2 linked regions of the Homo sapiens genome follow. The protein of the gene in region 1 purifies or fractionates together with the protein of each later gene. This does not show direct contact. Each region holds a gene or a part of one and is shown on either strand. Other genes may lie near its edges.

Region 1 (3,500 bases):
ATATTTCTAAATTACATGTTTAGCTTTTCAAAAAATACATAAAATTAACTGTAATCTTACAATACAAAATTTCTCTGAAAATATCCAACTATGTACTAACTATTACAAATATTTATTCCTGATTCACTTTTTCCTTTCACTGTATTCAGGAAAGAAAGTTAATAAAAATGTAATTTAAAAAGAATGATTAAGCTGGGGACAGTGGTGTGTGCCTGTAGTCCCAGCTGGTCAGGTGCCTGAGGTGGGAGGATTGTTTGAGCCCAGTTCAAGGCTGCAGTGTGCTATAATCATGCCATTGCACACCAGCACAGGCAACATAGCAAGACCCCATCTCTTTAAAAAAAAAAAAAAAAGATTAAATTATTAACTTCTAAACTTGGCAATATGGAGAGGTATAGAATGCAGCAATATTTTAGCAGCATGGGCTGCGGATTCACCACTCAATGTGTTAACAGTACTGTAAATTTAATCAGTCAAATCAGGTGGTGTGCATTGTTTTTGAAAGCTTCTACATCTTATGTAAGTGTGTACAATAAGAAATCTGTTAGATTTGACTTGTTACAAAATAACTGTATCAGATCCATGGAAGCACAGGGCCTGAAGAGAGGAATTCTTTGTTTTCTTCTTTCACTGCCACACCTATTCCAGAAGATTCTCTGGAGACTTTAAAAAAAAAATCATTTTTCAGTTTTCCCACAGTAATTTGCCCAGAGCCAGTATCTACTGAGATAATAATTAAAACAGTGTGTCTGGTTTAAGGAGGCATCCAGATAAGGGCTTCCCATGCAGAGAAAGCACCCACAGGAGGGTCAATCTACAGAACTAAGCAAAGCCTGTTATCTGATAAAGATCAAAATTGACTATCTTTAAAACGTTTTTTAGCCATAAAAAAGGATTAGTTCATGTCCTTTGCAGGGACATGGATGAAGCTGGAAACCATCATTCTCAGCAAACTATTACAAGGACAGAAAACCAAACACCGCATGTTCTCACTCATAGGTGGGAACTGAACAATGAGAACACTTGGACACAGGGTGGGGAACATCACACACCTACACCAGGGCCTGTCAGCGGGTGGCGGGCTGGGGGAGGGATAGCATTAGGAGAAATAACTAATGTAAATGATGAGTTGATGGGTGCAGCAAACCAACATGGCACATGTATACCTATGCAACAAACCTGCACGCTGTGGACATGTACCCTAGAACTTACAGTATAATTTAAAAAAAAAAAGTTTTTTGTTGTTGTTTACTGTTACATGCAGATACAACTGAGTATTCACAATATTTTTTGGAGGAGACATTCATTCAACAAATGTGTAATGAACACCTCAAATGTTTTAATTAATAAGTTAGCCATCACACACATTTTATTTTGAGACAGGGTCTCATTCTGTCACCCAGGATGGAGAGTAGTTACTGCGATCTAGGCTCACTGCAACCTCTGCCTCCCCGGCTCAAGTGATCCTCCCACTTCAGCCTCCCCTGTAGCTGGGACTACAGGCATGCACCACCACACCATGCCCCGCTAATATATATATGTATGTATGTGTGTGTGTATATATATTTTTATATGTTTTATATATATTTATATATTATATATCTATATATAAATATATATTATATAAATATATATATAATATAATATATAAATATATATATAATATAATATATATTTTTTTTTGGTAGAGAGGGGGTTTCGTCATGTTGCTCAGGCTGGTCTCGAACTCCTGGGCAATCCACCTGCCTTGGCCTCCCAAAATGCTGGGATTACAGGCGTGAGCCACTGCCCTTATAAAGACATCACCCTCTTCCCTCCAGGAGAACATCTTGCTGTAGAGAGAAAAATAAGAGAAAAGGACAATCCTACCAATGTGTACTGAGTACTATTTAATAAGTACATACAAGAAGGATCCAGAAACTTTTGCAGGTGCACCGTGAGAAAAACAGATCCCCCTGGCTAGGAAGTAAAGAAAGCTTGGCTGGGCATGGTAGCTCACGCCTGTAATCCCAGCACTTTGGGAGGCCAAGGCAGGCAGATCATGAGGTCAGGAGATCGAGACAATCCCGGCCAACACGGTGAAACCCCGTCTCTACTAAAATACAAAAAATTAGCCCGACATGGTGGCGGGTGCCTGTAGTCCCAGCTATTTGGGAGGCTGGGGCAGAGGAATCGCTTGAACCTGGGAGGCGGAGGTTGCAGTGAGCCGAGATCGCACCACTGCACTCCAGCCTGGTGACAGAGCAAGACTCTGTCTCAAAAAAGAAAAAAAAAAAAAAAGGCCGGGCGCGGTGGCTCACGCCTGTAATCCCAGCACTTTGGGAGGCCGAGGCGGGTGGATCATGAGGTCAGGAGATCGAGACCATCCTGGCTAACAAGGTGAAACCCCGTCTCTACTAAAAATACAAAAAATTAGCCGGGCGCGGTGGCGGGCGCCTGTAGTCCCAGCTACTCGGGAGGCTGAGGCAGGAGAATGGCGTGAACCCGGGAAGCGGAGCTTGCAGTGAGCCGAGATTGCGCCACTGCGGTCCGCAGTCCGGCCTGGGCGACAGAGCGAGACTCCGTCTCAAAAAAAAAAAAAAAGGAAAGTTTTACCACGAAAACATGTGAGCTAACCATTAAATTATCTGGACTTGGCAAAATGTTGTTAATGGTTGAAGCTGGGTGATGAATAAATGGGAGGTTTTCGTACTACTTCACTACTTTTGTATGTATGAAAATTTCCTTAATAAAATTTTTAGAAAGTGACTTGGGAGGACAGCAACATTTCAGGGAGAAGGAATAGCATATGCAAAGGCAGAGGCACAAAACTTCCTTAGTTTAAGGAAGGAAACTAACAAATATAAACAAGCTATGCTTACTTGAAGTCAGAGGTGAGGGCTAGAAAGGAATAGAGCTTAAGGAAACCTGTTTTTACTTCTCTCCCAGATACAGAACTTCAAACTGTTTATGGTTGAGACACTCATGAAAAATTAGCCATATATTAAGTCTAAGAGATAAAATTATTACAAATGCTCAAAATGTAGTCTTGTAGTGCACACCATTAATCACAAAGTATATCTACTACAGCACACTTTTAAGTCCATTTTCAATTATTCAATAAACATTTGAGTTTATACCTCATAAGAAACTTGTTTAAAATCAACTGGCTTCAAATTCTTCAATAAATGATAGAGAAAACCATTTCAGGAATGCCAGAATTTAAACATGAGCTCATTCTGAAATTTCCTGTTACTTAACCAGGTATGCTTCTTTTCTAGCTAAAATACGAAAGGCTCACACTTCAGGGCTGGTACCTCCGGTGCATATAATAACTGGTTCTGGCTTTCTCTATGTCCCACAGCACTATTTTGTACCATACAATGAATATTTTAGTATATGGTGTTACGATACTTTAACACTAGACCAGTAGAAGCCGTGGCTAGAAAGCAATGAGACTGTATCAGATACAGTCACTGATAGCGAGGGAGAGGGGCTCCCCCAAGTTCCAAATGACACAG
Region 2 (3,500 bases), on another chromosome or scaffold:
TTTTTTAGTAGAGACAGGGTTTCACTGTGTTAGCCAGGATGGTCTCGATCTCCTGACCTCGTGATCCGCCCGCCTAGGCCTCCCAAAGTGCTGGGATTACAGGCGTGAGCCACCGCGCCTGGCCCGACAGTGCTAATATATTAATACTAACCAGGATGGCTAATGCCATAATTATCAGCACTGGAAGATGAAGCAGCGCTGGAATTTCCTTCATGAGTGCTTTAATAAATTCCCCAGTTCCTTTTCCAATATGCTTCAATGGCTCCGTTACAAATGTGGTGAATGTAACTGCAAGTGCCTAAAACGAGAGAAAAGCAACTTAATTTTCTCCTCACAGGACTAAGGTACAGAATGCATCAAAATTCATTGAGTACTGATGCTGAAAGTATGTTACATAAATTAAAATGCTGTTGTGCCATTTTTAATGTGAAAATCACTGTGCAAAAGTATTTTTTCTTGGACAAACGCTTATTAGCAAAATGACTCAAACACTAAAGTTCTTTAAAATACAAGGGATTTCTGACTGACTTTAAGTAATTTTTACAAAATATATGCTATACCTTTGTTGGTGGGACCAACCAAATAGGGTTGACTAGTAAGAGCTCATAGTATTTTTGGCATGGGTCATCCTTATAGGTCCATGAACTTCTAAACCATTCTGTTTAGAGAAACAGACAAAACACTGATCATTTCTTTTAATGTTGCATTTCATTCCCAAACAAGACATTACTTTGGTTTTGACCCTCCCTGACCACCCACCAATGAGTTTTAAATTATCTTAAGTTTTAAGTAGACTCCCTGTAATGCTGATTTTTAAATTTTTCATCTTATGTCCAAAATCATGTTTTAAAAATCCATTCAAATTATACATGTTTTATGCAGATAAAAAATTGTATTTTATAAAAATGTCTAAAAGGTAAACACTTTAAAAGCAATGCTTCACAAACACAAATGAGTACAGGTAAAATGGGAAGTCGAAATAAGACTGGTGGATTGTATCAAAGTCAATATCCTGGCTCTGATATTGTACTATTAAAGCTGTGCAAGATGTCACCACTGGAGGAAAATGGGGAAAGGGTACACGGGCTCTCTCTGTAGTATTTCTTACTGTGTGAATCCACAATTACCTCAGTAAATTTTTAATTTAAAAAGTCAGTTCTTTATGGAGTTTACAAAATAAAGTGGAATATTAGTTCTAATTTTTCCAAATCAGGCTTATATACGTTGGGAAACTAGCCTGAGCTAGAGGAGGCATTTCACTGTCCACTGAAGCCAGGAAGGAAGGCTGAATTGGTTTAGTTCCCACAACTTTTTAAGAAACATTTATTTTGGATTCCATCTGCAGAATTCCGTGTCAGTCATGGACTTGCATTTATAAAATGCCTTGGAACATTATTAAACCATCCCCATTGCTAGATACATACAACCAAAGGTAGTGAACATTCATGAGAATGTTTATAAAATGTGAAAGAATAAAAAAACTAATTTTTCCCGTAGTTAAAAAAAAGTAAAGCTACAACATAAAATTTCACAAGTCAATATAAGGCCATTAAATTTAAGATGGATATTAATTCATATATACATTCATTCACTTGTTTAATAAACTTCTATTGAGAATATGCCAGACCCTGTGCAAAGAACGAGATGAACAAAAGCGAGCATAGGATCCTTCACACAGTCTTATGAAGGAAGACAGATAATATCAGAGCCAACATATATACAACTTCTATTCCTTCCCTGTGACTTTAGATGAGCATAAAAAGTCACTGGTTTTAAACCTAAAATGCTTCTTGCATGTTCTTCTGATATTAAAGATTCAGTCATGGAAAGCCTCCTGTTATTTTATCATTCTCTTTGTTCTATGTTCTTTCATTCTCAGAATTTCTATTCAAAATAAGGACAAGTGCACAAACACCTTACCCCAGATACTTCCAGTCCAGTCCATCTTTTTGGCACACACATTGTTTAATGGCTCCATCTTGGCGACTTCAGCCTGATGCTGTGCAAAAGCTAGCTGCCCAACACCAAAAGGGAACCAGGAGAGGCCGTTACCTATGAAGGTTAGGCCTACACATCCAAAAGACCTTCATTCAAAGAGTGTCTTTACCATTCATCCAAACCAGACTGTTATAAATTTTTAATTAAAAAAAAACATATTATTATTACTATTTTTTCTCTTTTTTTCCTGAGACGGAGTCTCGCCCTGTCACCCACGCTGGTGTGCGGTGGCACAATCTCGGCTCACTGCAACCACCACCTCCCGGGTTCAAGCGATTCTCCTGCCTCAGCTTCCCGAGTAGCTGGGATTAAAGGTGCCCGCTACCACGCCCAGCTAATTTTTGTATTTTTAGTAGAGACGGGGTTTCATCATGTTGGCCAGGCTGGTCTTGAACTCCTGACCTCAAGTGATCCGCCCGCCTCAGCCTCCCAAAGTGCTAGGATTATAGGAAAACATATTATTTGTAAAGAGTAGCTATTTCCAGTTCATGGAAAAGTACAGCCTTAATGCAACAAGTAAGCATAAAGTACTAACTACAATTGCCTTCTCTGTAAGTAATTATAATGAAAAAGGGAAACTTTACTAAAAATATTGTTTTTAAAAATTAGTTCAGCCAGGCGTGATAGCACGGGCCTGTAGTCCCAGATAGGAGGCTGAGGCAAGAGAATCGCTTGAACCCGGGAGGTGGAGGTTGCATTGAGCCGAGATTTCACTACTGCACTCCAGCCTGGGGGACAGAGTGAGACTGTCTCAAAAACAACAGCAACAACAACAACAATTAGTTCTAGCCATACAAATTAAATGACTACTTCTTATTTTCTTTTATAGTTGATGATATCCTATTTTGCACTGGATAATTTCCAGTACAATGACCAATATACAATCATTAAGGTGACAATACTCAAGCAACTTTCCTTCCACACAGAATCTGTGTTTAATTTGTAAATAATTAGTTCTAAATACTATAATACTTACAGCAAAAGGTTAAGGAAATGTCACAATGCTTTAACCAGATGAAATCATTGAAAATACTTGGCTACTTGACTCACTCTGCTAGAAAGATCTAAAATTTTCTTTCAATGATTATTATTTATGCTATGTTGATGGGAACAGTAGTGGTCCTTTCCAATTTCTATATACAGTATGATCCCAACTTTGAAAGATAATTAAAATCTAGAAAAATCTAGAAAGAAATACCTTAAACTACTGACAGATTTTCTCTAGGTGATAAAATTATAGGTTATTTTAAAAATTAATTTCCTTGTATCTGCCTTTTCTAAATTCTCTGCCATGAATATACCACTTATTCAAAAAATAACCTAATTTTTAAAAAATAATATTTTGGTATCATTTCTAGCAAAGACATAGAATGACATACTCTAAATTACCTACATGATAATTTTTAAATGTATCCACATAGCTTTATTCTTTTTTTTTTCTTCCTTGTTTTTGAGACAGACCTCACTCTGTGGTCCAGGCTGGAGTGCAGCAGCGCAATCTT

Evidence for each region. Proteins that work in one complex are often made in the same cells at the same time.
Region 2: the proteins of LAPTM4A (region 1) and CLCC1 purify together in Homo sapiens (co-immunoprecipitation; one large-scale study listed by IntAct). This does not show direct contact.

The regions. Positions count from the first base shown.
Region 1 is NC_000002.12:20,045,129-20,048,628, forward strand, and holds part of LAPTM4A (lysosomal-associated transmembrane protein 4A), read right to left. Parts: intron 1-3,500. UniProt on the Homo sapiens protein: May function in the transport of nucleosides and/or nucleoside derivatives between the cytosol and the lumen of an intracellular membrane-bound compartment.
Region 2 is NC_000001.11:108,939,485-108,942,984, forward strand, and holds part of CLCC1 (chloride channel CLIC-like protein 1 isoform 1 precursor), read right to left. Parts: intron 2,015-3,500; coding exon 1,921-2,014; intron 659-1,920; coding exon 561-658; intron 299-560; coding exon 152-298; intron 1-151. UniProt on the Homo sapiens protein: Anion-selective channel with Ca(2+)-dependent and voltage-independent gating. Permeable to small monovalent anions with selectivity for bromide > chloride > nitrate > fluoride.